Regions from separate parts of the Homo sapiens genome. Here all the other regions are reported to be linked to region 5. The links are microRNA targets in miRTarBase. Many come from high-throughput screens and were not tested one by one. Region 5 holds a microRNA gene; each other region holds the end of a gene's coding sequence.
What was found. Region 5 holds the annotated microRNA hsa-miR-6777-5p (ACGGGGAGUCAGGCAGUGGUGGA, at 2,015-2,037, opposite strand). A microRNA usually pairs through its seed, bases 2 to 8, with sites in the 3' UTR of a target mRNA and lowers its output. Matches are read on the target gene's strand: a 7mer-m8 pairs with bases 2 to 8, a 7mer-A1 pairs with bases 2 to 7 and ends in A, and an 8mer does both.

Region 1 (4,071 bases), not on the chromosome of region 5:
TGATCCCTTTGTCCCCACAGGACAGCCCATCCCAGAGAGTGGAGACCCTAAGGGAACTCCAAAATCTGATGCTGAGTAAGCTCCCCAACTCCCCACAGCCGCTTTACCTGCCCACATGACCCCCCCTTCGTGCCTGTCTGCTGGGGTGGAGCTCTGTCCTGGGCTCTGCTGCCACATATGCCTAGAAGACCAGCGGGGCCCCTCTCATTAGCTGGGGCTGGGAGTCAGCTGGTGCACTGCCCCCTGCCTTGGTCCTGCTGAGTCTTGACCCCCATGTCTTCAGGCCAGAGCCTGGGAACCTCTCAGAGAAGGTCTCTCACTTGGAGTCCATGCTCAGGAAGCTGCAGGAGGACCTGCAGAAGGTGAGGGGTGGGCTGAGCTTGGGGGGAGTCACAGGGCTGCCCCAGGAAAGGGGCTGGCGGCTCTGACTCCTGTCTCCCCGGCACCCCAGGAGAAGGCGGACAGGGCGGCCCTGGAGGAGGAGGTGCGGAGCCTGAGACACAACAACCGGCGGCTGCAGGCGGAGTCTGAGAGTGCAGCCACACGCCTCCTCCTGGCCTCCAAGCAGCTGGGCTCACCCACCGCCGACCTGGCCTGAGCCGTCTGGAACCACCTGGGCCCCTGAGGGCACTGTGGTCACACTGGGCCCTCCTCAGGAACTCTCCCTGCGCAGAGGCGTGTCTTAGCACTGCCCCCCTCCCTAGCCCCTTATTTGGTGGCGGAAGTGGCCTCCACCCCTTCCCTGTTTGTAAATATTCTGTGGAGAAAAGAGGACTTCAGGGAGTAAAAAAGCCACTGATGTCTGTGTCTGAACATGTGTCCAAGACAGGGCAGGGCAAGGGGTTTTGCCTCCAGAGGCCCCAGCCAAACTCCTCGGACCAGTCAGGACAGGCCCTGGGAACACTGGCTCAGAGATGGGCTGGCACTCACTGAGGGGTCCCTGAGGCCAGGCCACTGCTTGGCTTCTCTCCCATAACGTTTATTTGGTTCTGCAGGGAAGCAGGTGGCCACACCCCACAGCTACCCTGGCCGTGCATCACAAGGCCCTGTGCCTCAGTGCAGGCCTCACTCTTCTCTCTGAAGCCACTGAGCCCCCAGGCCTTGTCCTCTCTCTACCCACCTGGCCACTTCTTGCAGGGCCCAATTCCAGAGGCGGTGGCATCTCCGCCTCAGTTGACTGGGGCTGTTTCTATGTCCTGGAGGAAACGGGCCCTTGACCCACTTCCCTCCTCACCAGCCTATGGTCCTCTCTGTTCCTCGCGAGGCCAGGCCTTTCCCCGAAGTGGCATCATCAAGTCCAAACTTGGGACTTTGTCTAAATCCTTTGGTTTCTGGACCTGAGGCCCAGATAGGGCAGACTTGCCCAGCATCTCATGCCTATTCCAGTCCCTTCCCTAGGCTGGCTGAAGCTCCATGGTGAGACCTAGGCCCTGGGTCTGTTAACTTAGGTGCTGGCAGGATGAGCTAGGCTCGGAGAAACAGAGCATCTGAGGATCAGGAAGGCTTCATGGAGGAGGTAATATGAGGGCTGAGTTTTGAAGGCTGGGTAGGAGTTCACCAGGCAGAGACGTCAGAGGTATCCTGGTAGGACCAGTCTGGCTGAGGCCTGCTGGACTAGAGCCAAGGCACACCCAGGAACCCAGCGTCAAAGAAGCCAGATCAGAAAGGGTTGTGAAGGTGCACTAGGGATCCTGGGTTAGCAGTTCCCAAGACTGCCACTTTTTCCTGGTTGTGGACTAGTGTGGAAGGCTGTGGTCACTGAGGGTGTGTCTGCAGAAAACTCGGATCTGGTCTTGTGGTTGATGTTTGAAGGGAGATTGATGGGGTGAGATCTGGATGTCAGAGCTCTTTGGCTGCAGGGAGGCGGCTGTAGCCGCAGTCCAGTGGGAGGTCTAGTGGTGACTTAAACTCAGTGATAGCAGTGACAGTGGGGAGAAGTGGGCAGATTTTCCAGGACCTCGTGGAAGGACTGGACGCAAGTTACTAAGGGAAGAGGCGGCATCTACGGTAGTGGCCAGGTTTCCGGCTGGAGCCCTTGGAAGGTGGCAGGGCCAGGGCTGACAGGGAAAAGGAGAGGCAGGCTGGGGATGGCTGAGGTCATTTGGAACAGGATGAGTTTGAGAGGCCCGAGGACGTCAGAGTGGAGATGTCCAGGGGCTGGTGCGCAGGGGAGAGAGATCTGGGTTGGATACGAGGACTTGGAGCTGCTGAGCCATGAGCATGATGGGGTCATTCACGAATGAGAGAAGAACCAGGAGAGGTCTTCGTGGGTCACGGGAGGTCGCGGGACCGAGAAAGCCAAGAGGAGGGAGGCGCAGCCTGGGCTGCAGGGCCTTGGCTCCCTGGTTTCCCTCTGGGCCTCGGGTCGCGGACCTCCGGTCGGGGTCCCTGCGCAGCTCAGCCGTCGGCTTCCTCAGCGTTAGGAGCCTTCTCACCCCGCCCGCTTCCTCCCCGACCCCGCCTCCCAGGCGCTCCCCGGCAGCTTCGCCCGGGTCCTGACCTGGCCACCGCGAGCCCGGGCTCCGCCCCTCGCGTGGGAGTTCCGCCGAGGCCCGCCCTCGCTCCAAGCCCCGCCCCTGGCCGCCCCCCCGGAGCCGGAGCCCCGTGGAAAACGCCACTTCCTCGACGGAATTGGCCTGCCGTCTCGCCGGCGCCGCCCGTCGGAGCCTGCACCCAGGGCCTTTTCTGTTCCTAGGAGACTCGCTGAATTTTGGGACGCGTCCCGCTGACGATAACTCCTTTTCCCCTGCTATTGTCCTCCCGCGACGGTGCGAAGCCCAAACGAAGACGCCATCGGCCTCGGCGGGGATTTTCCCCAGACGCTGGACCCGGCCTCCGGTTGCTGCGGGCTCCTTGTGCGCCTGCGCAGTCGAGAAGGGGGCCCACGCCGGCCAGCGCTTTTTGCTGCTGCGCTTGCGCTGGGGCAAAGCGGAAGTACGTCCAGCTGTAGCCCTTGTGGGCTGCGGCTGGGCCTTTGTTTTGGCTTCCTGAGGCTGTGGATTGAAGATTTCACCGTTCCTCCCAGAACAGAGTATCAAAGCATCGGTGGGCCGGGTAGATCTTTACCTGGCACCACACATTCCCCAAGAGAAGCACACACTCCCTGGGCCACCCAAGGAATTTGGCCCCATCACATCTTTCGAACATCGTTTCTCTTACCTCTGACGCTGGCTAGTCCCTCTTTGACATCCACTCTCAGCTGATCTAAGACCTGGAGCTAATGGGGCCTCTTGGAAGACTCCTGAAACTGCTCCATCCCCACAGCCAGCGGGCTCTACTAGGCTCTCAGTGTGCTAGGACTCTTGCCTTAGCTGCCCGTTTTCATCCACTGGACGGTAACTCGGGGTTTCCAAGGGCATTCTCAGACTGCAAGCTCTCAGAGGACAGTGCACGCATTCACCCAGCTCTCTACCACCAATGTCTGGCCTGATGTGACTAGCAAAATGTGTGCTCAGTGTTTGCTGAAAAAAAGCGGATCTCTAGCCAGCTTGGCAACAGATTTATTAGTTCAGAGTAGAAAGAGCAAGAGTCCAAGTGCTTTGATTGTTCAGTAAAAACTATGCCTCCTGACTGGAGAGCTGCCAGCCTGCTCTCCCCCACTCTTAACAACTTACCCTACTATTAAGGCACTTGAGAAGAGGGAGAGCAAGGAAGTCCCAGACCAAACCCCTTCTGGATCCTGGAGAGAGCCAGTGCTGTTGCACTGGTTTCCTTCAGCCATGGTTGAGCAAGGAAAGAGCCGGCAGAGACCTCTGTAGGGCAGGAAGGCCAGCCCCTCAAACGCTGGTGTTAGGCACAGGGACAATGCCAGTGCCATACAGGGGCTGGTATCTGGGGCGTTATTTTGATTAAGCTGTAATGAATCCATGATGGAAGACACTTGATAAGGCTTTGTGGGCTCAAAGGCCTTACCTCCAGCCTGCTTCTGTCTCTAGGAGAGTACCAGAAGCTGGAGGATGGGGATGGGGGACCCCAGAGTTCCCTACAGAGAAGGGAGCTGACCATCAGGACAGGGGAAAAGTTTGAGTTTCCCCAGCTCCCCCCTTTCCAGAGAAGTTAATGCTTCTGCTT
Region 2 (4,063 bases), not on the chromosome of region 5:
TCCTGATGGCTGGCATGGACCTCGGGCCCTGCCAGGGCGGTGTCAGCATGGACACAGCTTCTCCCACCTTGACACATTGTCTCTGCTTCCCCAGGTGCAAACTCTACAGCGGCTCTGCAGACTGCACCATCATTGTGAGTGGGGCCTACAGGCGGGTGGGCAGGAGGCGGCCCAGGCCCGCCCCAGTCTGTAGGTGCCCCAGGGACGTGTTTCTCCCCGTCTGGGCTCCAGACTCCAGGTGGCAGGGCTTGGTGCCCTGAGGCTGCCGGTCCTTCCCCAATCAGGTGTGGGACATCCAGAACCTGCAGAAGGTGAACACCATCCGGGCCCATGACAACCCGGTGTGCACGCTGGTCTCCTCACACAACGTGCTCTTCAGCGGCTCCCTGAAGGCCATCAAGGTACGGGTGGAGGCTGTGCCTACGTGTGTGTCACTGAGGCGTCCCTTGCCCGCCCAGCCCACAGTTGCAGCAATCCCTGCAGGTCTGGGACATCGTGGGCACTGAGCTGAAGTTGAAGAAGGAGCTCACAGGCCTCAACCACTGGGTGCGGGCCCTGGTGGCTGCCCAGAGCTACCTGTACAGCGGCTCCTACCAGACAATCAAGGTGCGCTTGGGCACACCTGGTGGCCACAGGGCCTTGCCTCCTACCAGCACTTCCCAGGCCAGCACCTGGGGCTCCATCTGCCCTGTTCCTACCTTCGCACATCCCCTGGCTGGGTGGGTGGGCTGCCCAGCAGTGCTGAAGCCCTGGGGGTGCGGGGGCCCTGGGGGTGAAGCACCTGGCCTGGGACCAACTGGCCCACGATTACTCATAGATCTGGGACATCCGAACCCTTGACTGCATCCACGTCCTGCAGACGTCTGGTGGCAGCGTCTACTCCATTGCTGTGACAAATCACCACATTGTCTGTGGCACCTACGAGAACCTCATCCACGTAAGGCCTGGGCATCTGGGTGCAAGGCCAGACTGTGGCCCCGTCTCCCCCGCCTTGCTCAGTGTCTTTGACCTGCCTGTGCCCACCCCTCCCAGGTGTGGGACATTGAGTCCAAGGAGCAGGTGCGGACCCTCACGGGCCACGTGGGCACCGTGTATGCCCTGGCGGTCATCTCGACGCCAGACCAGACCAAAGTCTTCAGTGCATCCTACGACCGGTCCCTCAGGGTGCGTGCTGGCCCAGCGGTGGCAGGAGGCTCAGAGGGCTGGCAGCTGAGCTCCGGCGGGCCCTCACGTCCCATGTGCCCCCAGGTCTGGAGTATGGACAACATGATCTGCACGCAGACCCTGCTGCGTCACCAGGGCAGTGTCACCGCGCTGGCTGTGTCCCGGGGCCGACTCTTCTCAGGGGCTGTGGATAGCACTGTGAAGGTCAGTGCCCGTGGCTCAGGCCATTCAAAGGGGCTGCACAGGATGGAGCGGGGGTGGGGACGAGGAGCTGGCAGCCCCAGCACAAAGTGGTGGAGGGCAGGTACGTGTGGCAGGTGTGGCTGGGGCAGGGCAGCCGGCCGCAGGACATCCTGGTGAAGCAGCCCTTTCTCTGCAGGTTTGGACTTGCTAACAGGATCCAGGCCAGGCTGTGGTTTCCCCTGAACCAGCCCTGGACCTTTCTGAGCCAGGCTGGCCACATGGGGTGGTCTCGGGGTTTCTGCCTGCCCCGTGGGCATAGGTGGACAGGCTCTGGCAGCCGGGCAGTGCCCTCCCCGTCCCATGCTCGGCGAGCCTCCCTCTACTCGGCACTGTCCTTGCTGCCCAGCCCCTCTCTGGGTGCCAGGTACGACGCTTGCCCCGGCCCACCCTCCATCCCCACCCTCCATCCCCACCCTAGATGGAGCGAGGGCCTTTTTACTCACCTTTTCTACCGTTTTTAGACTGTATGTAGATTTGGTTACCTCCTGGTTGAAATAAATGCTCCACAGACTGTGGCTGTGAGTGGGGACAGCTCCTCGGGACAAGGGGGCTGTGTGTGGCCTTGAGGTTGGTGTGCACAGGCACTGGCTGCTGTGAGTGGGGGGGCATGGGGCAGTTTCCTTTGGTGGACCCCAGGACTTCGGCCCACTCCGGGGCCTCCCCTCCCTGCTAGGAGGCAACTCGTCACACCCAAGCTGCTGGCCTCCAGTCCCATCTCCCCCAACACATGTGCCCCCAAAAAGTGAGCCAGGCACCTCTGTTTCCTGCTGTTTATTGACAGCCGACGGCAGCGCCTTGCCCAGACCTCCCCTGCCCACCTGCTGGAGCCCAGCCTGTGCCGCCCTCTGAGGAGAGGCCTGGGGGGACAGCTGGGCACGTCCACTCGCAGGGAAACACGGGGTGAGACAGCAGGAAGGGGCCCTGCACGCCGGGACGCCACCTCCGCCAGCCGCCTCCACCCGCCCCACACCACAATCGCTGGTTTTCGGCATTTTTTAAATTTTTTTTTTAAGAAACGTCAAAGTTGTGCCCAACACTGTGGATCAGCAAACACGATAGAGGAGACCAGTCAGTACTTCTTGGAGGGGGCAGGAGGAGAGAGGAAAAGGGAGGGCGAGAATGACCACACAACACAGCCTTGGACCATGAGCAGAAGCGTCCGTGGGAACTCCACTGGGGTGGATGGGCTGCCTGCACAGCCCCTGGAGAGGGGGCCAGGCACACCCTCAGAGGAGCTGCAAGCCCGTGGCCTGGCCTGCTACATGCCCTGCTTCCACGTGGCTGCCACGCTGACACACCCACATTCACCAAACCCACCCGCGCCCTGGGACGCAGCCACGCCAGGAGGAGGACACGGCCGCCGAGAGCAAGGCACAACCTCGAGTTCTTGGGGCGCAGAGAACTTAGGAGAGAAGCACGGAGGAGCCCCCGGCAGAGCACCCGCCCCCGGGCCCCAGCCTTCCACCTGTGCTAGCAGCCTGGGGCCTCCACTCTGGCCGGAGGAAGGACCGCAGGCAGACAGCCTGGGCCTCTAACAGCTTTTGTCCGGAGCTAGACTTCGTGTCCTTTCAGTTGGTAAATGGTTTTCTATAGAATCAATAATATTTCTTTCTTTAAATATATATTTGTTAAAGTTATACCTTTTTGTTTCTCTGGGGAAATCCGCCTCAGCTCATTCCCAATAAATTAATACTCTTGATAGCTTATATTCTGGGGGTGCGGTGGGGCAGGGGGGCCCTGACCTTGGTCCCCTGTCCCTTGTGCTGCGCCCGAGCGGCTGGCCGGGCGTCCCGATGGGCAGTTCTGTGCTGGGCCCGGGCCTGTGCGCTGCCCCATCCCTGGTCCCGGGGCGCCCTCCCCTCCCGCGCGGGCAGGAGGCCCAGCAGGTATTGCACGGGGAGCAGCAGGTGGGGAGGACCCGCGGGCGCAGGGTCTGCCTAGAGCCCTTGGAGCCCCCGGCCAGGCGGTCCCCGGTGGGCGCCCCGGCCCGGGTCCAGGGGCCGGAGTTGTGCTTCTGCAGGGCCCTGCCCGGCCGCTCGCGCCGCGCCCAGACGCGCCCATCCTGAGGTATAGGTCAGTGTGCGGGGAGGGCCCGGGCGGCGCGGGAGGGCCCGGCCAGGCGGCGTTCACTCCAGCATGGCATCCAGCTGGTCGGCCAGGTCGTCGAACATGCTGCCGATGTCGTCCAGGATGCTGCCAGTGCTCTTTTCCGCCGCCGAGTCGCTGCGGGGCGCGGGGCAAGGGGCGTGAGTGGGCGGGGCGGGTCTGGCCACGCCCACCCCGACCAGGACACGCCCACGTCCCGCATCTCCGTCGGCTTCCGCCTACCGCACGACGACCTCGGCGGAGCCCCGCTCACGGCACGCCCATCTCTGCCGAGCCCCGCCCATCTCTGCCGAGCCCCGCCCATCTCTGCCGAGCCCCGCCCATCTCTGCCGAGCCCCGCCCTCCGCCCGCCAGGCCCCGCCCCGCACCTACCGCGGGCCCTGCGCGTCCTCCTGCCGGATCTTCTCCTCCACCGCCTGCAGCGCCGCGGCCAGGCACGCGCTTGTCTCCTCCAGTTTCTGCCGGGCGCTGTCCCCTGGCGAGGCGCCTTCGGGCGGGGCGGGGGGCGCGGCGGCGGCGGCGGCGGCGGCGGCGGCGGCTCGCGGGGGCT
Region 3 (4,071 bases), not on the chromosome of region 5:
CATTACTTTTGAGGTTCACAAGCTAATCACAAATGCTACATCAATTATTGTTCTGCAAATAATATATTACCTTGAGTTGTTCCAAAGGTCTTATGTTTATTGGCTGGAATTTTCCAATAGCAATGAGGAGTCAAGGAAGAGTTTCCTACTCACCGGCAGCATCTGGAATAGCAGACCAACTTTCCTCATGCTGGGGAGCAAATCAGGTGTTGCAGCTAAGGGGCCATGCAAGAAGAGCTGCAATGGCCATTCCCTTCACCTGGCTACCTCCTCTACTCTACAGGGCACCGAGCCCAATGGAGAAGGTTGGGAGTGGAGTAGCAGTGATGTGATGAATTACTTTGCATGGGAGAGAAATCCCTCCACCATCTCAAGCCCCGGCCACTGTGCGAGCCTGTCGAGAAGCACAGGTAAGAAACAGAGGAGCTGCCTCTTCCCAGTGTTTTCCATCTCATCCCCCATTCCTGGGTCTGACCTTCAGGAAATCTTCCTGAGCTAGAAAATACAATGTTAGTGTGTCTTCTCTTATCTCCTCTCTTCTCCACTTTCTTTGAATCTCTCTCCTGGATTGGGACACTGGTGAAGGTGAGGGAGAGGCTTTAACTTCTAGGCTAAAACCTGGGATGCCCCTTCATTGGATTCACAAGCTTCCTCAGCCCCATTCCATTTATGTCTTCTGTCTCTCCAGCATTTCTGAGGTGGAAAGATTATAACTGTAATGTGAGGTTACCCTATGTCTGCAAGTTCACTGACTAGTGCAGGAGGGAAGTCAGCAGCCTGTGTTTGGTGTGCAACTCATCATGGGCATGAGACCAGTGTGAGGACTCACCCTGGAAGAGAATATTCGCTTAATTCCCCCAACCTGACCACCTCATTCTTATCTTTCTTCTGTTTCTTCCTCCCCGCTGTCATTTCAGTCTCTTCATTTTGTCATACGGCCTAAGGCTTTAAAGAGCAATAAAATTTTTAGTCTGCACTTGTTTGTCTTGTATATGCCAGTGTCATAGCCATACTCTGAGAAGGACAAAGTGTTTGAGTGGAGGAAACTTTATGGGTCTTGCTTCTTCCCTATTCACCCAGGCCTCTAGGGAAAATGATGAAGTGTGCATCCCTACCAGTGTGTTATGATGAGGGTGTGGGTCCTGCTCATGTAGGATTTGTGTTGTGGAGAGATGAGGACATTTCTCTCCCGCGTACTTACTGCCCTCCCATTCCCGTAGCCCAAACCTGACAGTGTGACATGAACAGATTTAGGAGGCTCTGATGGTGCTTAGAATAGTACTTCTCAGAGAATGGCATCAGCAGGATGGTAGATAGGACTTTCCAGCTCTTGAACCTTCACAGAAACATTCATTTGAACTACTACCCATTAAAATGGAAATACCTTCACAAGAGCTAACAATCCCAAGTGAGTGATTAAAGCATCTGAATGTTGCAAAAAATAAGAAAGGATGCATCGAAGAGGGTAGAAAGAAGACTTTTACATTATTTATATCACCCCTCCATCAATCTCAGTAAGCACAGCATGGAGAGACATTCCCTAAACTTGGGGAAAGAGAGTGAAATAAGCACTTGAGTTTTCCATGGACCCTAACACTAGGTTTGCCTCAGTAAGACCCAGTGGCCTCTGACTCCAGGCAGACACCCTTGGACTTAGACTCCAGGCTGCCTTGATGCCAGGCCAGGCTCTGTGGCCCCAGGCTCTGTGACCCCAGGCTCCAGGTCAGCCCCCATGACTGCAGCCTCCAGTCTTGCCCCAGAAGATGCAGGCTCTAGACACACACAGCATCATGCTTTTCCCCATAGCTCCAGACCACAGGCCAGCACCCACTGACAAAGACTCTAAGCCCACCTCAAGGACAAGCTAGCACTTGCAGCCACAGACTCCAGGGTGACCCCTGAAATCCTAGACATCAGGCCTGCCCATGTGGACCTGCCCTTCAGACCCACCACAGCTCCAGGATAGCTCCCACAGCTACAACTTCAGGCCAGCACTTGCAGACCCCAGCTCCAGACTGACACTCACAGTCGCAGGATACGGTCCTGTCAAATCCCAAACCCTCCCCAAGCCTTTAGGTCCATCTGAGCACAAAGCCCTGATGCTAGGCCAGCCTCTGTGGCCTCTGTCACTAGGCCAGCCCCCACAGACACAAGTTCTGGATTTTCCCAGTTCCAGGCGAGGCTCTGTGGACTCGGTACTAGTCTGGCCTCATACTCCAGCAGACCCAGGATCAAGCTTCATTACAGTAGACCTTAGCACCAGGCCAGCCCCCCCGACTCAGGCTCCAGCCTTAGCCCCATGAATCCAGTCTCCAGACTTACCCCAGAGGCAAGTTGACATTCATGGTCCCAGGCTACAGGCCACCCCCACTAACCCTGGCTCCATACCAGCCCCTGTAGTTTCAGGTACCAGCCCAGTATGCACAGACTCAAACTCCAGACCTGTCCTAGAGACTCAGATACTACATCTGTCCTAGTGCCTGGCTAACCCCTGAAGACATGGGTTCAAGGCCTGCTTTAGAGCCAGATTGGTCTCCAGGAAGTAGGATTTAGTCTGGCTCCTGTGATTAGAGGCTTCGGGCCTGCCCTCATGAAGTGACTGCCTACCCTGGTATACCAAGTCAATAGGTCCACTTGAGGATGCCAGCAGCAAGCCTGCCCAAAGACCAAGCCAGATGGCCTGCCCAGAATCTCTGGATGACTGACTGGTGAAGGGCTTTGTCTGCTAAAGCCAGTCTGTAAAAACTGGAATAAGTGACTACTTGTTCAAAAAGTCAAACACCAAAGACACATGACCACAAGTATCATAAACAATCAAGGAAATATGATATTACCAACAGAACAAAATAAAGGACTAGTAACTGACCTTAAGGGGAAAGAATTTTACAAACTGCTCAACAAATAATTTAAAGCAATTGTCTAAAAGAAACTCAGTGAGCTACAAGAGAATACAGATAGACAACTAAATGAAATCAGAAAAACAATATGTGAACAAAATCAGAAGGTCAAGAAAGAGATTTGTTTTAAAGTTAAAAAAAAACACATAGTGGCTGAACTGAAGAAATGCATGGAGAATTTCAACAGCAGACTTGATCAAGCAGCAGAAAAAGTCAGTGAGTTTGAGACAAGTCATTTGAAATTATCCAGTCAGAGAAACAAAAAGAAAAAAGAAACAAAAAGAGAAAATAAAGCTTAAGGAAACTATGGTACATGATCAACTGAGCCAATATATATATTATGGGTTTTCTAGAAGGAGCAGAGGCAGAAAATGGGCAGAAAACATATATAAAAAATAATGGGTCATGGGGTTTGGCATCCCCATGCCTGTCAGTGCCTCACCCCAGCCAACGAGCATGCACCCAGCCATGCTGCCACTGCCGTGGCATGAGCACAGATCCCACTGCTATCACCCTGACAGAGTACTGTGGTCACTGCCACTTACTGGAGTGTTGTGGCCAGCAATCCAGGAACACCTTTGGACCCCCAGCACAGCAGGTTCCTAACTTCGAGGGGTGAGAGAACAAAGCTAGGGGCCTGATAATAGCATTCCAGAATTGGGGAATGCTGAGCTGAACCTTGGCCCACTGACATCTTCCAGAAATGAAGTGAGTCAACTGAGCCCACCTTATACCACAATCAAACCCCCAAGGGCATCAAAAAGGATAAACACACACACACACACACACACACACACACACACACAATCCATCCAAAAAACAGCAACTTCAAAGATTAAAGGAACGCCAGCCCACACAGATGAGAAAGAACCAGTGCAAGAACTCTGGCAACTCCAAAAGCCAGCGTCTATTTTTACCTCCAAACAATTACACTAGTTATCCAGCAATGGTTCCTAACCAGTCTGAAATATCTGAAATGACAGAAATAGATCTTGGAATATGGATAGGAACCAAGATTATTGAGCTTCAGGCAAAAGTGAAAATCCATTTCCAGGATTCTATACAATAAAACGATACAGAAAATGAAAGATGAAATGGTCATTTTAAGAAAGAACCAAACTGATCTGATAGAGGTGAAAAACTCATTTCAAAAATTTCAGAATACAATCACAAG
Region 4 (4,071 bases), not on the chromosome of region 5:
GGGCAGACCTGGGGGAAGGGGCAGGGCTCTCCCCTCCCATGCTGGCCCTGGCGTCAGATGCCACGTCACACCTGTGGTCTCTCCCAGGACACATTTGACATCCGGATCCTGATGGCCAAGTCTGTCAAGTACACGGTGAACTTCTTAGAAGCCAAAGAAGGAGATTTGCACAGGTACTGGCACCCACACTCCATCCTCCCAGGCCTGGCTCAGGCCGAAGGTCAGGGCCACCCCTGGCTCCCGCCGGCATCCTGCCGTCCCAGGGCAGATGGTGGGCGGGGGCCCCAGGCCTCTGCACCTGGCACCCCCTCTTCTCTCTCGGCAGCGCCTGTCTGGCTTCCCCAGCAGCCACTGCCCTTTGCCTTCCAGGATAGAAATCCCATTCAAATTCCACATGCTGCATTCAGGGCTGGTCCACGGCCTGGCTTTCTGGTTTGACGTTGCTTTCATCGGCTCCATGTGAGTGCCGCAGAGCAGCCCATGCTGCCTCCTCCCCACTCCCAGGGCTTCCTGCAGCTGCAACCTGGCTGGGGGGGTGGAACATGGCTCCAGGTTCCACCATCCCTTCCAATGGGAGTGAGAGCCTGTCTCGGAGCAAGAGACTGTTGTGGGTGGGGTGTGTGTGTGTGTGTGTGTATGTGTGTGTGTGTCCTGTGTTCCCAGTGTCTGTCCCTCATGGGTCTGTGTCTGTCTCTTGGCACATGTCAGGGTGAGTAGGGATCTCGTGGTTGCGGGCCCCTCGTGTGTACATGTATGCCTGCTCATGTTTGTGTCTGGGACTGCCTGGGGGCCAGCCTGTCTCTGCTCCAGGGTCCCAGGGGTCCCTGGCAGAGGGGGCAGGTGCTTGGGGAGGACTCAAGGCATACAAGGTGGTGGCTCCAGTGGTGGCGCCGGCCCAGTCAAGTATGTGCCTGTCCCTGCTCCACAGAATGACCGTGTGGCTGTCCACAGCCCCGACAGAGCCCCTGACCCACTGGTACCAGGTGCGGTGCCTGTTCCAGTCACCACTGTTCGCCAAGGCAGGGGACACGCTCTCAGGGACATGTCTGCTTATTGCCAACAAAAGGTGCGACTGCTCCCTGGGGCTGGTGGTGGTGGGCAGGGGTCCATCTGCCCAGCAGCTCATGCCACGGCCTGCACCCTGTCCGCAGACAGAGCTACGACATCAGTATTGTGGCCCAGGTGGACCAGACCGGCTCCAAGTCCAGTAACCTCCTGGATCTGAAAAACCCCTTCTTTAGGTAGGAGGGGCCCCTTGCCTGCACAGGGGGGCGCCCCGGCCCTGCAACCCCCTTGCCCCTGCCCATGGCTCTGTCTCTGCCATAGATACACGGGCACAACGCCCTCACCCCCACCCGGCTCCCACTACACATCTCCCTCGGAAAACATGTGGAACACGGGCAGCACCTACAACCTCAGCAGCGGGATGGCCGTGGCAGGTGAGCAGGGCCCACCCCAATGCCCAGCCAACCCGGGAGGCCGCCCTCGCCGCAGGCCTGGCCCCTCTGCCTCCAGCCCTGACGTCTCCCTCTCTGGACACAGGGATGCCGACCGCCTATGACTTGAGCAGTGTTATTGCCAGTGGCTCCAGCGTGGGCCACAACAACCTGATTCCTTTAGGTGAGTGTCCCCCAGGGCCAGGGGCAGCAGGGAGCCATGCCCAGGACTGCCCAGGGGCCGGGAAGGGCCTGTGGTGACCAGGGTCGGCCTCTGCTTGGTCCTTTCACCTTTTCCTCTTCCTGGGGGCTCTCGGCCGAGGCTCTCCGTCCTCTCTGCCTCGCTCTGCAGCCTGCTGCTGTGCATGGGCTGGGTGGCTGGGGGCGGTGACGCCGTCTCCCTTCCTTCTTTCCTCCCTCTCGCTGCGCAGCCAACACGGGGATTGTCAATCACACCCACTCCCGGATGGGCTCCATAATGAGCACGGGGATTGTCCAAGGTAACGAGGGTGGCGGGGGCAGGGCCCGTGGGGGCCGAGCTAGCGTGTGAGTCGCCATCCTCTGTCCGGCCGCCCGCCTGCCCTCTTGCCTGCCCTTTCTCTCTCTCTGTGACTCTGCCTGGGGGCTGGGCGGGCCAGGGCAGCCCCTCACTGCCATTGCCTGCTCCACAGGGTCCTCCGGCGCCCAGGGCAGTGGTGGTGGCAGCACGAGTGCCCACTATGCAGTCAACAGCCAGTTCACCATGGGCGGCCCCGCCATCTCCATGGCGTCGCCCATGTCCATCCCGACCAACACCATGCACTACGGGAGCTAGGGGCCCGCCCCGCGGACTGACAGCACCAGGAAACCAAATGATGTCCCTGCCCGCCGCCCCCGCCGGGCGGCTTTCCCCCTTGTACTGGAGAAGCTCGAACACCCGGTCACAGCTCTCTTTGCTATGGGAACTGGGACACTTTTTTACACGATGTTGCCGCCGTCCCCACCCTAACCCCCACCTCCCGGCCCTGAGCGTGTGTCGCTGCCATATTTTACACAAAATCATGTTGTGGGAGCCCTCGTCCCCCCTCCTGCCCGCTCTACCCTGACCTGGGCTTGTCATCTGCTGGAACAGGCGCCATGGGGCCTGCCAGCCCTGCCTGCCAGGTCCCTTAGCACCTGTCCCCCTGCCTGTCTCCAGTGGGAAGGTAGCCTGGCCAGGCGGGGCCTCCCCTTCGACGACCAGGCCTCGGTCACAACGGACGTGACATGCTGCTTTTTTTAATTTTATTTTTTTATGAAAAGAACCAGTGTCAATCCGCAGACCCTCTGTGAAGCCAGGCCGGCCGGGCCGAGCCAGCAGCCCCTCTCCCTAGACTCAGAGGCGCCGCGGGGAGGGGTGGCCCCGCCGAGGCTTCAGGGGCCCCCTCCCCACCAAAGGGTTCACCTCACACTTGAATGTACAACCCACCCCACTGTCGGGAAGGCCTCCGTCCTCGGCCCCTGCCTCTTGCTGCTGTCCTGTCCCCGAGCCCCTGCAGGTCCCCCCCCGCCCCCCCACTCAAGAGTTAGAGCAGGTGGCTGCAGGCCTTGGGCCCGGAGGGAAGGCCACTGCCGGCCACTTGGGGCAGACACAGACACCTCAAGGATCTGTCACGGAAGGCGTCCTTTTTCCTTGTAGCTAACGTTAGGCCTGAGTAGCTCCCCTCCATCCTTGTAGACGCTCCAGTCCCTACTACTGTGACGGCATTTCCATCCCTCCCCTGCCCGGGAAGGGACCTTGCAGGGACCTCTCCCTCCAAAAAAAGAAAAAAAGAAAAAGAAAGAAAAAATAAATGAGGAAACGTGTTGCAGCACAGGCAGTTTTCTTCTCCTTCTGCTCCCCTGTTTCTCATACCCCCAAACTCAGATGCTGGAGCTCAGGCCCGCCGTGTGTGCACCCAGGCAGGAGCGGGCGCTGTCCAGGCTGGGCCGCCCCCTTGGCTCTCCCTCCTGTTCCAGGGGAGCCATAGGAGGGAAAGCAGGTGGCCCGGGGGGGATATGGGGGCCCCAGCCCTGTCCCAAAGCTCCCTGCTCGGCTGCCCCTCGCCCGCCTTTATATAAATTCTCTGAATCACCTTTGCATAGAAAATAAAAGTGTTTGCTTTGTAAGAAAAGTCTGGAAAGTAGCAGAATCATCTCAAGGTGTCAAAGGAGCCTTCAGTCATCGTCTGGGGGGCAGGACAGGCAGAGGGGTTGGTCCACTTAGGTGTTGCCTGAAAGAAAGAATTGTCTGGGAGTGGCCCCAGAACCTCTCGCCTTGACTGGGAGTGGGAGGGCAGCCCCCTTAGCCCAGCTGGGAATAGTCCTTACCTGTGGGACCCGGGCCTTCCTAGGAGGGGGCCAGGGACTGCGGCAAGGTAGGGGACAGCGCGATGTTTGAGGGCAGAGATGTGATTTGGGGTGGAGGAGCCACGTTCTCCGGAGGCAGCGACTGGAAGAAGTACAACTGCACAAGACCCCTGGGGTCAGAGGCAGGGCCAGCCCATGCCCCCCTAGCCCCTCGGCCCCACCTGTGGCCACCCCAGACCCGTACCTTACAGCCCATGGCCAGGAGGGCGTGGAGCAGCACGACCACGGACAGCAGCACTGTGGCCACCAGCCTGGTGTCCTCACGGAC
Region 5 (4,071 bases):
TTAGGTTGGGGAATGGGAATGAAGGGAGGGGCTGGGGGGGGGGGCATGAATGGAGTCAGGGAGTCGGCCTTTCACAGAACAGGAAACCTCCCCCGCCCCTGTGCCCCCTCTCCAGTGTGGCGGCAGGTCGGGAGGGAGGAGGCTTCTTTGCTGTGAGATGACCAGGGGCCGGGATGGGGGAGGTGAGACGTGCCAGACTTCTTGCAGGGAGACCCAAGCTGTAGCTCCTGTCACACAACAGGTCCTGGAAGTCAGTCCATCCTCCCGTGCCACCCAGGGACCTGATGGGGACAGAGCTGGGAGGTGAGAAGGGACAACTGACCCCATGGAGGCCCTAAGGGTTGACACAGCCCAACCATGTGCCCTGGGAGCAGGGGGAACAGGTAGGCTGGAGGCCATACAGCCAGCCCTCCCCACTCCTCCCACTAACAAACAAACATCGGGAAGAGCTAAGTTAAAAGTTGTGTACCTTGTGGCCGGAGGGGGAGGGGAAGCCTTTCCCTAGGTGCTGGGGGAGGGCCCAAGCACTCTCACTAGTCAGCACATCCATCAGCTGAAGACACAAAACCCAGATTATAAATAATTTCATTTTTAATTCTCTGTACAAAACTTCTCAATCTATGAAAATAAAGTTTGCAAAAGGCAAAGTAGCACAGGAGCCTCAGGTCAGGAGGCTAAGCACGCTGACCTACACTATGTACACGTCTCTCTCCCACGACGGAGAGAGAGGCCTCTGGGGCAGAGCCCTGCTTGCAGTCCGGGAAAGCCAAGTTGGCTTCCGTCAGCACAGGGAAATGTACCCCTCTCTTCCCTGTACACAGGAGGAAAAAAGCCACTAAGGTGCCTGCAGAGCAAGGAGGGGGGCCCCCCAAAATGGCTCGGCCCCTGCAGTGCCCCGATCGGCCACCAGAGGTCAGCACCATCATGGCCGCCGGTCTTAGGGTCAAGATCGCGCCCCTCGGGCCTTCCACCGCGAAGGCACACAGCAGCCGCAGGTCGAACTGTGGAGGCCAGAGTCTCTTGCACTGCCTTCGGCCTTCAAAGCTTCGACGCAGGACAGAAGCTGCACGGGACCAAAGTGGCTAGAGACAGGGGTGCTGAGGCCGGGGACACGGGGTCTAGCTGGAAGTGACAGTGGTCCCACCGCCCAGGCGCATGAGCATCTGCTGACAGTCGTGCAGCAGCCGGCGATCGCCAAGCTTCTCGAGTGTGCGCGCCGCCTCAGCCAGCATGCCCACGCGCTGCCCGGGCGCCGACAGGAAGCCGGGGGGCAGGTAGCAGGAGGCCAGCAGCAAGGCCTCCGCGTGCTCCCGCCGCGTGGGCCGCGGCTCCAGCTCCGCCACCGCGCCTGCGCACACGAGGATGTGTCAGGGATGGGTCTCAAGCTGGCCACGCCCCCGCGGGAGCCCTGCCCACACACAAGCCACGGCACCAGCCGCCTGTACCTGGCACACAGGTACCTGGCGGGGGCCTGGCGGGTTCCCCTCTCCCCACCCTAGTCTCAGCCCACACACAAAGTCCACAGACTGAGTCACGCACGTGCAGTCATGTATCCCACAAATGACAGTCACCCCACTGATTCCTTGTGAAAGGAATTGTCATCAGGTAACCATCAAGAAGATGCTTGGTCTTTTTTTTTTTTTGAGACAGGGACTCTCCCTGTCACTCAGGCTCACTGCGGCCTCCAACTCCTGGGCTCAAGCTGTCCTCCCAACTGAGCCTCCCAAAGTGCTAGGTGTGAGCCACTGCGCCAGGCCTGTCTGTCCCGTCTGACACACACACAGCCTCCCTTGGTATCACATCCCATGTGCGCCCTTCCCTGCTGAGCAGACAGCACATCCCTGGTCAGCAGCTGCCCCCTCACCTCCTTTGCCACCGGGGCCTGCCCGCCGCCTCAGACTGCGGTCGAGGAGCTGGTGTGTCCGTGTGGGGCTGGCCCCCGCCATCAGCCGGGCCGTGGCCTCATGTAGGAACACCTGGGGGCCAGGAGAGTGGAGGCTCAGGGCTCTCCATCTCCACCACTGCCTGACTCCCCGTCTTGAGGACAGGGCCATCGGGCACTCACCCTCCGCATGGCGGGCCGGAAGCTCTGTGCCAGCCGCCTCAGGCTGCTCAGGTCCCGTTGGAAGCCACGCAGCTCAAGGGCGGAAGCCTGGGGCCTGCTGCTGGTGCCCTGGGCTGCTGGGGCCGGGGCCGGGGGCTGCTGCTGCCGCCACAGGCTGGTGCGCACCACAAGAAGCAGGTCACACAGGAACAGCTGCACGGCCTGGGGGTGGCAGGCAGGGCAGGGGTCACCAGGGCTCCAGCTCTGGGAGGGGCAGGATGGGGGCCCGTGGTGCCAGGGGCCGGCTCCGGGCTGCACTGCCGAGGCACTGCACCCGCCTCACACACGTGCAATGCAACAGCAATGCACCGCGGGGCCGCCCGCCTCTCTCGGCCCCCACACCCGCCACCGGCCCGGGAGCAGCTGTCCAGCCCTCCTGATGCAGGGCCTCCAAAGGGATCCTACCACACCATCCACCCCCCTCCTCCCAGGGATGGGGAAACTGAGGCCAGATAGGGGCAACCCCTCTCCTCTGGACAGAAGCCTTAGCCAAAAAGCAGGGTCTGCTGGACCCCCTATCCTGTGCTGCTTGGGCTAACCCCATGGTCTTCTGCAGCCCCTGGGGGCTGGGGAGAGGAACCAGGGAATGGAAAGCTGAATCCCCCAGCCCTGCCAGGCCCCTGACCCCACCCCTCACCTTGTCAATGGAGCTGCTGGCTGGTGTGGTAGCCAGGCTGTCCTGCAGGTACCCACTGGCCTTCTCACAGATGGTCAGGCTGGCTGGACCAGACTCTGCCTTGGCACAGCCCAGCAGGGCCCGGGCAGCCTTGAAGGAGTGCAGAGCTGCCCTGGGCAGGGGTCTCCTGTTGGGACCAGGGCAGAAGAGTGCCAGTCAGACCAGTCCACAAGCCCTGGCTGAGTGCCCCCCACTTCCCTGGCTCGAGTTCCCTGAGGAAAAAAGGTGGTGACTCCTCCTGCACAGAACAAAGGCTGAGTGAGGCACAGTGCCCAGGGGATGAGGAAGGCTGAGCCCGGGACCAGGCAGGAGGAACCTGCCGTGCACTCACTCAGACTCCTGCAGCACCCGGGGCAGGTGCTCCACCAGCGGGCACAGCCGCTCAGCCGCCTCCTCATCCCGCCGCAGCCAGTGGATCACCACAGCTGTCAGAGAGGCCCACCACTTGGCCACCGGGTCTACGCCTGCAGAAGAGGGAGGGTCCCCTGAACCCTCAGTCACGCTGCACGGGGGAGCTGAGAAGGGAGCCAGGACAGGGGCCGGGGACTCACCGGTGGTGGTGGCCATGCTGGAACTGATGGAGAAGCTGTAGGCAGGAGCCCCCGCAGCATCAGAACAGCTGTTCAGCAGCTGCAGGTACCCGAGGGCATCCGAGAATTCCCTGTGGAAGGAGAGAGCTGGCTGTCGGAACAGATGGCAGGGGTCCTAGGAGGGTGCTCCCCACCTGCCCTCCAGAGTACAGCCTGGCCCCTGGCTCTGCAAAGTGCCACTGTCTCCTCCCACAGGCTGGTGGGGAGAGGAAACTCAGAGAGGAATGAAGCGTGCATGGCACGCACGGTAGCCCAGCTCTGGGCTCTCTCCACAGGGTTGAGGCCAGAGCTATTCTCAGAATCCCGCCGGAGGGGCCTTGCCTGGAGGAGGGCACAACGACACTTACTTGTCCCCATCAGCTGACCCAGGGCTGGGGTTGGGCTGGGTCACACAGTTCAGTGCTCGCTCTAAGAGATGTTCCCGGAATAGCTGAGTCACCTGGGCCAGGGGGTCCACTGTGGAGAGGAGGAGGTGAGTGGGGTGGGGAGCAGGGCCCCACCCTCCTCTCCAAGCTAAGGGCTTTTTCCTGGGTGGGCTGGGGCCACACCTAGGGCCACTGGGAAGTGCCGGCATGCCCCTGGGTGCAGCCCCTGCCAAGGACAGGGGAAAGCGGGTGGACATAACTATCACCAGCACCAGCCTTGGCCAGGAGACAACACTGAGGCCTGCCCTACACTGCTTCCAAAGGAAAACCGACTTG
Region 6 (4,071 bases), not on the chromosome of region 5:
GGCTGCGGGAGACCCGCTTCGTTCTTTCCGGTTAGGCATCTTAAACGCTGCTGATGGGAACGGTCTCACGAGGTTCCAGCAGCCTGAACACTACAACGAAGGCGGCGCGGGCGCTGCACCCGCCAGGCCCTCCCTACCTGCTGCGGACGTCCTTGCTGCGGATGGGCGCCAGGAGGCTGAAGGAGGATTTGGCCGAGCGAAGGGAACAGTCGTCGCAGGCCAGGGGGCTCCGCGGCCGGCCGGGGCCCAGGCTGCTGTGGGCCCGCACCAGGAGCGGCTGCGCGCGGAGCTTGTAGTCTGCAAGATCCGAGTCGACCTTGTTTGCTGTCCTCAGGGAGTCGGAGGCGATGTCCAGGCTCAGGGCAGGCGGTGGGCGCGGGGGCAGCAGGCTGGGCAGCCTGGGCGAGCTCCCCGCCACGGCGGCGTCTCTGTGCGGGAGGTTCGGGGAGCTGCTGGCCACCCCAGAGAGAGGGTTACCCCCCGAGGACGGGCTCCCTCTCTCACTGCTCAGGACCCCGCGGGACTTGGGGATTTCCTGCAAGGAGGTGCTCAGGCAGGGCGGGGAGCAGCTGTGGGCGGGGGCCCCGGGGCCCTCGCTCTGCACTGAGCCCCTGGAGGGACTGGTCCCATTCCGGGCTTCCAGGTCCTCCTGGCTGCCTCGAAAACGCCTCCTCCTCCAGCCCTTGTCGTCCAGGGACAGGGCTCGCTCCAGTCGAGGCCTGGCGGGGGGCCGCGGGGCGATGGGTGCTGCTCGGGCTGGCGGGTCCTCGCCGCTGGGCGTGGCCGGAGTGCTGCAGGCAAGCGCGGGGCTCTCGGAGCCCGGAGCATCGGGTGGGGACCCCGCGCGCTGGGCCGGCGGAGCGCCGGGAAGCTGTCCTTGGAGCGTCCTCCCTTCCGGCGGCTGCGGGGCCGGCTCGGAGGGCCGCAGATTCTCCGCCTTGGACGGCATGGACGGTCTCTCCCGGGGCAGGCCTCGGCGCGAGGCCGCAGGCAGCGCGAGGGGTCACGGGTGCCGGGTCCGGGGTCGCCGGCGCAGCGAGGAGCAGAAACGCCGCTGCGGCTCCCGCTTGGGCCGGGGATGGTCGCGGAGGGGCGGGGGCGGCTGCCGCATGGCCCGGGCCCCGAGTCCCGCCAGCCCCTCGGGGCTCCCAGACGCCGTTCCCAGGGCGGTCCGCAGGCAAGGCCTGGGGGAACAGGCGGCTGGGCGCCTGTCGCGGGGGAGGTTCGACCCCGACGGGGACGCCGCTCGGGGAGAGGGGTGGGAAGCGGGCACCCCTGGCTGGGCTCGCAGACTCCGAAGTCGACCCGGTACTCGCGGAGGCCCGGCCGCCCAGAAGCGGAGTCAGCCCGGCCGGGACCCAGCAACCGCCGCCGCGGGGCCGCGCCCGGTCCCCGCCCCGCGCCCCGGCCCCGCCCACAGCGGCCCCTGGCGGCCGGAGGACTGCGCCGCACCGGACCCGGACGGGTCTCCCACGCCCCTCCCAACCCGGCAGCCCCGCAGTCCGGCAGGTCCCAGCGAGGCAGGTGCAGGTCCCCGGAGAGGACCTGGGTGCGGTCCAGGACAGCGCCGAGGCCTGCGGACACCTGCACTCACTCGCTTCCAGCAAACCAAAGGGAACCACAGGTGAAGGTGCTTGAAGGAGCGCAAAATATTTTATTCAACAATTTGCAATGTAACAATTCTCATTTAGGAAAAATAGCCGCTCCCGCCTGGAGGAAGCTTCTTGAATCAAAAGTCGTGGCAGTCGACCCCAGAACAGCGGGCAGAGCCGACCGGAAGAGGTCCCAGGATTCACACGAGCTGACCGAGGGACAGAGAGGGCTGCCCCGTCACAGGGACTGGCCTTTCTCCAAGTGACAAGGACAAATGGATCCAGCGGGACACGCCTGTGGAACATTTTGGAAAACATCCTGGGTGGTCTGGGCTAAATGATCAAGTGAAACAGAAAGCCAGGAAGGATCTGTGCTAATTCCACATTCTACAATTTCTACACTTAAATTTAAAACACCAAACAGTTTGTATTCCTCCAGCAGAACCTACAGAAATTATCTACTGATTTTTATTAGTATTTAAATCTTTTCTTCAGTCTCTTTAGACTTGACAAGAATACGAAGAGTTTCAGAACAGTCAGAGAAGCCTTAAAGCTTTGCATCAGTGAGAGGAGGCCCGTCTCTGAGTTGAACAGGGTTGAGTCCACCAGGAGCTACTCAAAGTCTCAGTGTGGCAAAACTCGGGGCAGAAATACTAAGTTCCAGAGCTGCTGTCAAGAAACTGTGTTAAGATACTCTCCCCAAGTGCTACCAACCTCTGAACCAACGTCCCCCAGGGGAGAAAGTGGGTCATGTGGATTGTACCACGAAAAGTGCTCACGGAAAGTGCAGCCTTTTAGAGAAGTGCATCCAGCTTCCTTAACAGTGAGTCTAACCGTGCTCCTACACACGAAATGAAGCCCAAATCAAACATCACACGGTCAGTTTTCAACCTGGATGACCACCCTGAGCCATCATGTCAGACAGCCGGCTCTCTGGGGCTCCTTCCCAGTGACTGGGCCACACGGTGGGCAGTCCCCAGCGCTTTGGGTACACAAAATCACCCATGGTCCTCATCAGGCCACAGAAAGTAAAGTGAGGCTGGAAGCGTCTTTGCAACAGGAAAGAAATTCACTGCAGTAACTAAGGCCTCTCTCAAAAACCGTGAACTAATGCCGAAGGAACCCCACGGCTCCTCGGAGGCGCTGATTGAGAACACAGCGCCCTCCACTCATTCAGCCAGGTTCAAACACGGCGAGGGCCCAGATGGTGCAGAGCAGGGGTTGGGGTCTGCCTCAGTCACCCTCTCTTTGCTCCCAGCACCTTAAAGGAAGCGCGGGACTCACTGGGCAGTGACTCACAGCTGGGCTTGGAGAGGCCCTGGTTACTACCGACCATGTGGCTCTCCTGTGGCAGAGACAGCTCCGGCTTCAATGAATGAACATTCTTAAATGACCAGGAATACTATATCCTTAAATCATCCTAAATGACTAAGAAAGTCACATCATTCTTTTCGGCAAACAATTCTGAGTCAAAGATTCAGTCTTTCCATCCAGAATCTGAAAGGATGGTGGAATTAATTTTCAAAATAATTCATTACGATGGGCGGTGAGGAGGGAGGCACAGTGTGCGACCAGCTCTGAGTCACTGCTGTGTCTCCCTGGGGGCGGGACGGAGATCGCGGAGGTCGGTCGGGTTCTTCGGGGAGAACAGCAGCGTCAGGGCTCCAAGTGCAAGTTCACAGCAGGGCAAGCCTAGTTCAGCACCAGGTGCTTCCTCTGGCCAATCCTCCCTAGCCTTGAGCTCCCGGAGGTGGCGCAGGCCTGGAATGAAATCAACAGCATGACCTCTGCATGCCTGCCCCCAGGGTGAGCAGTGCTCGGCTGCAGCGTGGCAGGGGCTGGTCCACATAATGAACCACACGGGCCATTGGCGCTGACAAGCTGAAGGCTTCGTTTTTGTTTCCAAAAGCCTCTGGAAACCGACAAGTCAGTGCCAAGTCCTGGGCTCCCTTGAAAGCACTGTATCCTTAACCATCAATGTTTACTGTGAGGGTGGCCAGGAGGTGCCGTGGTTTCATCAGGGCCATGAGACCTGGAGCTGCTCTGCAGAGCCAGCCTGGCTGTCCAGAGTCCAGGGACAAGTGGTGGCCAGGCCTGGCCTACTGCATGGGACGCGGGGACCTCAGTTGCAGACAGCTGGCCAATGCAGGCATCCACTCTTGCTCCCTCGCAAAGCCTCATGGAGGGGAAAGCCAAGGAATTTTTGTAAAGGCACTAACCACATGGTAAAGGGAGCAGGACAATACCAAAATCGACTAGTCTGGATGCTGAAAAGCAGGTGACAGCCAGGGGCCAGCTTGGGGGCAGTGGTCCTGGGAGCCTCGGCCTCGTTTGTAGAGGACCAGGGCAGGAGTGCTGGGCCCCAGCCCAGGAAGCCTGCAGTCAAGAGTGTGTGAGGCTGTGAGGGCAGGCTGGGGTGACAATGGGGCTGAATCCCAAGAGGCCCCAGACCTTGGACCCCGCTCAGCTCCCCTACACT
Region 7 (4,000 bases), not on the chromosome of region 5:
CTCCTGGCCTCACAAGCTGGGCAGTGTTGGCAGCAGTGGCAGCAGCAGAGGGGCCTGCCTCCTGGCATCCCCGGTACTGGGCAGTGTGTGAAGCCTCCCTGTGGGTGTGGGGACCTGGGGCACACCCACCTGCCCCTCACTAGGAGAGGGTTTCTGTTGGCAGTCAGGCTTTGGGGGTCTCTGTCTGGACTCCTGAGGCCTGGGAGCACTACCCTCCTCCCAGAAGAGGGGACATCCGTGTCTGCTTGGCTCAGCAGAGCTGCCCACACCCACCTAACACAATTCCCAATTTCTCTGCTCTGAGGAAGGCAGAAAAGTTATTGCACCAGTGACTTGGGCAAGTGGGGGTTGGCTGGCAGAGGAAGCGCATGCCCAGGAAACAGGGCCCCTATAAGGCTCTCTTGCAGCCCGGGCACTGGGAAATTCGTTTCTCCTTAATGGCTTTCAGCAGGATCAGACCATTCCCTCTGCCACATCTGTGCTGAGTGGCCATCTGGCTGTGCATGCATGCGTGTGTACATGCGTGTACACATGCCTGCGCGTGGGTGTGTTGGAGGTGTGAGTGTGTCCACTGTGGGCACACGTACTGGGTCTGAGGTGGTCGCACTTGCAGGCCTGTGTTCACCTACTCTGTGCTGCTGCTTTTCAGACCCTTCTGATAAAAGGGGACTCGGCTGGTTCTATTACACATTAGAACAATATCAAAATCTGTAAGGAAACAGGGGCATGGGTGTGGGGTGGGGGGCAAGGACAGGGAGGGCAACAAGAGGCAGGATGACAACTGGGGAGGCCTTGGCACAATTCATACCAAGTTTATTTCATTTCCAGCAAAGCAGAAGCTCAGCTCATGCTGTGGGCATGAAGGAGAAGCAAAATGTCCTCATCTCTCTGCTGGGCTAGACCTCCCTTTTGCCAGCTGGCTGTGTCTGTGGGCCCAGCAGTAGTGCCCACCTTCCCACAAACTTGGGGCACAGAAAACCTCACATCCCTAGGTCCAAGTGCTGACTCCTGCCTCATGCCCACCCTCAGCCCAGGCTGGCAGCTGCTCGGTGGGTATGCTGAGGCTGGGCCCCTGGCAAGTCAGGAGCCTCCTACGTGGCCCATGCTACATGGACCCCAAAATTTGTGCTTTGCTTGTGGGGAGGGTGTGGAGGTGTCTTAAGGGGGAACTCAGTGCTTTGGCTGGGCTTGGGGCCTTCAAAGTCCAACACAGAATGGGGAATAGAGGGTGGCAGTGCAGGATAAAGGAGATGCAGGAGGAGACAGGGACAGGAAATGCCTCTATCAGGCAGGCCCCTGGGATTGCCTCCTGCCTGGGGGAAAAGGGGACCAAGCAGAGGGGCCAGAGTGTTGTAAGGTGGGATGGGGCAGTGATGTAATGTGGAAAAGGTCCCCTGTCCTGGGGGACACTAATACTGCTGGGAAAAGCAGCCCAGCTCCTCCACCTCCCTCTGCCCTGTGGCTGGAAAGACTCCACAATTTTCTCCCCTAACTTCACCCTATCCAGTACCCCAAATGTGTAGAGGGGAGAGCCGCACCAGGGCTGGCATGGCTTCAGACTTCTGCTACGTGGCTACTGGGCAGCCTGGGCTGGGGCCAGGGCAGTGAGGGCCAGACAACGACGACCCACCTGCTGGGCCCAGGGTTGCCAGGGCAGAAATGGAGCTGGCAGGGGGTTCAATAGCAGCACCAGGGAGGGGAGGGGAGGGGTTGGGGGGCTCCCTTAGGAAGCCTATGGCAGGGTGGGTCAGTGCCCGTGGGGCACAGAGTGGTCTGCCTCCCTCCTCCCCAACACTTGCCATCCTGCAGAGCCCCTGACACCCTGGGGTGAGTTAACTGGAATCCCAGTGGGCAGGCATGAAGGGCCGCGAAGCCTGCCTCTCCATCCCAGGGTCCTTCCCATGGGCATGCCTGTCTAGAGTGCCAGGGGATCTGGGAGCAGATGGAGGAACTGAGGCACTTTGAGCTGGGGGACTGAGAGGGCTGGGAGGGGTCTTCCTCCATTATATACATGGGAAGACCCAGTCTGGGGTGGCTGATAGGAACTCAATGTCCCATTCAAGAAGGGAATCTGCACTGAAAGGGAGGGCTTCTCCTAGGCCCTCCCCTCATCCCAGAATGAGGACCAGGGGTGGCTGAGCAGGAGGTGGCCTAGCGGCCCCACCCCCCTCACTTTCTGCCAGGCCCGAGGCTTTGACAATGGCCTTTGTGTGTGAGGCATTGTATGGACTCCTCAGTCCCTCGGACTGTGTTTGCAGAGCTTCTGCCATGTGGGCTTCCTTCCCCACTACCCTCCGTGTGGATGCTTCTTTACCTCTGACTCCTGCAGGTGGATCCCCCTGGGATCCCAGCCCTGACTAGCCAAAAGAACCAAGTGTTGCTAGATAAGGGAGAAATCAGAGAAACCTCCACGCTGTAAGAAGCAGTTTGGGGCAGGCCTGAGATCCTAGGGTGGAGGCACCGGGGACCCAGTCTCAGCTGTCTCTGGAAGCTTCTATAGGCAGACCCCATTCTCAGCTTAAAGGGGGAATGAGGTGGAAATAGACGGGTGGGCCTTGGGCAGTGTCTGGATGGGGCAGGGCATGGGACTCCAGGGGAAAGCAGGCAGAGAGGAGCAGTGTGTGCATGTGTGTGTGTGTGCACGTGTCAGCAGAGGCAGAGAGCAAGTGTGGGCTGGAGCCCACCTGGAGCCCCTAATGGAGGGGGCACATTGGGGATAAAGAGGGGACGCGTCAGAGCTAGGCCAACTCCACTCTCTGTGGGCCAATGAGGAAAAAAAATGTAAAACCACCCTCAGCAGGAAAACACTGCCCAAGGCCCCGCTTAACAAACAAGACTCCCTGGGAACTGGGGAGAAGCCGCACCCCTCCCCCTACCTCTTGGGCGCACCAGCTGTCTAGACCCAAGGTCCAAACTCCCAGCTGCATCAGATTTCACTGGTGGGTGTTGGGTTCCCTCTAGCCGGGAGGAGGAGCAGCATCTGGGGGTGTGGGGAGCTTTTCCCTCTTAGAGCCCCTTGAGCCCTCCACCCCCAGTGAAGAAACACAAACAAATTCCAGTGTAGGGGGGCGGGGGAGGCTGGCTCCCCAAACCCTGGAGGGATGCCCAGGTACACAAGACGAGAACAGGGCTCCCTACACAGAGGGCAGGCAGGTGGGGCCCGTAAAGGGAAGATACAGTAACACTAAAGCCACAGTCGAACACAACACCATGGGGAAGGGCGGAGGAGAGGGAGGAAATAAAACACAAAGCCAAGTCGTGGCTGCCCTGGGCTCCCCTGGCCCCCCAGGAGTTCGGGGCTGGCTTTGGGCAGCTGGGCAAGTCTCTGTTCAGCTCCTGGAGTGGGAGGTGGGGGGTGGGCAGGGGGCGTGCGGGGAGGGGCTGGGGAGGAGCGGTCACAGACAGAGGCTCTGGAAGGGGGGCTACACGTACCACTCCTTCTTGGAAATGAAAGACCCGTCGTTCTGAGAAACCATGTTCTCAGCCAAGTCCAGCTGCTCAGGGTCGTACTGGTAGCCCAGAGTCCGGTCCCCGTAGCCGTCCTGACGGGCCTCGGCCTCATCCACGGTGAAGTAGGGCCGCTTGGCGTCCTCGTCATATTTGGGGTGGGGGCCGCCCACCTTGCGCTCGCCCCCTCCACCGCCCTCCTCCTCCTCCTCCTCCTCCTCATAGCTGCTTCCACCCAGTGGGCCGGCCTTCTTCTCGTCGTCTGAGTCGTCGGGGTACTGCAGGTTCTGTGCCATTGGTGGGTGGTGCTGGGGGATGCCTGCCTTGCTGTAGCCGTTGCCATACACGTGCTTCTTGGTGCTGTAGTCACCCTTGAAGGTGTGCCGGCGCCGACGCAGGGCGACCACGATCCCGCCGACCACAATCAACACCAGCAGGATGCTCCCCGCCACGCCCCCAATGATGGCCGTGGGCACCGGCCCGGCGCGCCGCCCATGTTCGGGAGGAGACGGGGTGTAGGGGAATTCTGGGTGAGGAAAAGAGATGGAGGGGA

Region 1: miRTarBase lists SIPA1 as a target of hsa-miR-6777-5p. The part of its 3' UTR that is shown has no 7-base or 8-base seed match.
Region 2: miRTarBase lists CASKIN1 as a target of hsa-miR-6777-5p. Seed matches in the 3' UTR shown: 7mer-m8 at 3,490-3,496 and 7mer-m8 at 3,302-3,308.
Region 3: miRTarBase lists REG3A as a target of hsa-miR-6777-5p. Seed matches in the 3' UTR shown: 7mer-m8 at 899-905.
Region 4: the mRNA of YIPF2 is a reported target of hsa-miR-6777-5p. Seed matches in the 3' UTR shown: 7mer-m8 at 2,803-2,809.
Region 6: the mRNA of SEC16A is a reported target of hsa-miR-6777-5p. Seed matches in the 3' UTR shown: 8mer at 3,231-3,238.
Region 7: the mRNA of NECTIN1 is a reported target of hsa-miR-6777-5p. Seed matches in the 3' UTR shown: 7mer-m8 at 3,372-3,378.

Annotation. Positions count from the first base shown.
Region 1 is chr11:65,650,118-65,654,188 of GRCh38, forward strand. It overlaps SIPA1 (signal-induced proliferation-associated 1), which reads left to right. Exons shown (of 16, transcript NM_006747.4): 14 at 21-75; 15 at 284-362; 16 at 452-795. The coding sequence ends at 598. RELA (RELA proto-oncogene, NF-kB subunit) reads right to left here. Exons shown (of 11, transcript NM_021975.4): 11 at 3,484-4,071. Among named protein-coding and RNA genes, the nearest start is that of MIR4489, 3.0 kb to the left of the region's middle. RefSeq lists a silencer at 2,384-2,623 and enhancers at 2,684-3,163, 3,174-3,223, 3,964-4,071.
Region 2 is chr16:2,175,017-2,179,079 of GRCh38, forward strand. It overlaps CASKIN1 (CASK interacting protein 1), which reads right to left. Exons shown (of 20, transcript NM_020764.4): 19 at 3,886-4,063; 20 at 2,164-3,630. The coding sequence ends at 3,534. TRAF7 (TNF receptor associated factor 7) reads left to right here. Exons shown (of 21, transcript NM_032271.3): 15 at 95-134; 16 at 285-401; 17 at 484-606; 18 at 818-937; 19 at 1,033-1,164; 20 at 1,249-1,368; 21 at 1,544-3,113. The coding sequence ends at 1,558. Among named protein-coding and RNA genes, the nearest start is that of CASKIN1, 20 kb to the right of the region's middle. RefSeq lists an enhancer at 2,812-3,313.
Region 3 is chr2:79,153,911-79,157,981 of GRCh38, reverse strand. REG3A (regenerating family member 3 alpha) reads left to right here. Exons shown (of 6, transcript NM_002580.3): 5 at 284-410; 6 at 689-976. The coding sequence ends at 756. Among named protein-coding and RNA genes, the nearest start is that of REG3A, 3.8 kb to the left of the region's middle.
Region 4 is chr19:10,919,508-10,923,578 of GRCh38, forward strand. YIPF2 (Yip1 domain family member 2) reads right to left here. Exons shown (of 10, transcript NM_001321439.2): 8 at 3,988-4,071; 9 at 3,765-3,900; 10 at 2,686-3,667. The coding sequence ends at 3,784. CARM1 (coactivator associated arginine methyltransferase 1) reads left to right here. Exons shown (of 16, transcript NM_199141.2): 9 at 88-173; 10 at 370-459; 11 at 929-1,066; 12 at 1,152-1,241; 13 at 1,327-1,439; 14 at 1,543-1,620; 15 at 1,868-1,936; 16 at 2,108-3,568. The coding sequence ends at 2,250. Among named protein-coding and RNA genes, the nearest start is that of YIPF2, 7.1 kb to the right of the region's middle. RefSeq lists a silencer at 1,525-1,704.
Region 5 is chr17:17,811,504-17,815,574 of GRCh38, forward strand. MIR6777 (microRNA 6777) reads right to left here and starts at 2,042; the gene lies at 1,977-2,042. SREBF1 (sterol regulatory element binding transcription factor 1) reads right to left here. Exons shown (of 19, transcript NM_004176.5): 13 at 3,718-3,826; 14 at 3,332-3,441; 15 at 3,112-3,244; 16 at 2,742-2,907; 17 at 2,066-2,266; 18 at 1,865-1,976; 19 at 1-1,348. The coding sequence ends at 1,119. MIR33B (microRNA 33b) reads right to left here and starts at 2,428; the gene lies at 2,333-2,428. RefSeq lists an enhancer at 1,254-1,812.
Region 6 is chr9:136,438,471-136,442,541 of GRCh38, forward strand. SEC16A (SEC16 homolog A, endoplasmic reticulum export factor) reads right to left here. Exons shown (of 32, transcript NM_014866.2): 32 at 1,635-3,353. The coding sequence ends at 3,285. INPP5E (inositol polyphosphate-5-phosphatase E) reads right to left here and starts at 1,375. Exons shown (of 10, transcript NM_019892.6): 1 at 138-1,375. The coding sequence starts at 949. RefSeq lists enhancers at 1-212, 154-263, 213-847, 848-1,481 and silencers at 554-1,043, 1,104-1,283, 1,334-1,533.
Region 7 is chr11:119,661,325-119,665,324 of GRCh38, forward strand. It overlaps NECTIN1 (nectin cell adhesion molecule 1), which reads right to left. Exons shown (of 6, transcript NM_002855.5): 6 at 1-3,973. The coding sequence ends at 3,423. Among named protein-coding and RNA genes, the nearest start is that of NECTIN1-AS1, 47 kb to the right of the region's middle. RefSeq lists enhancers at 3,272-3,810, 3,811-4,000.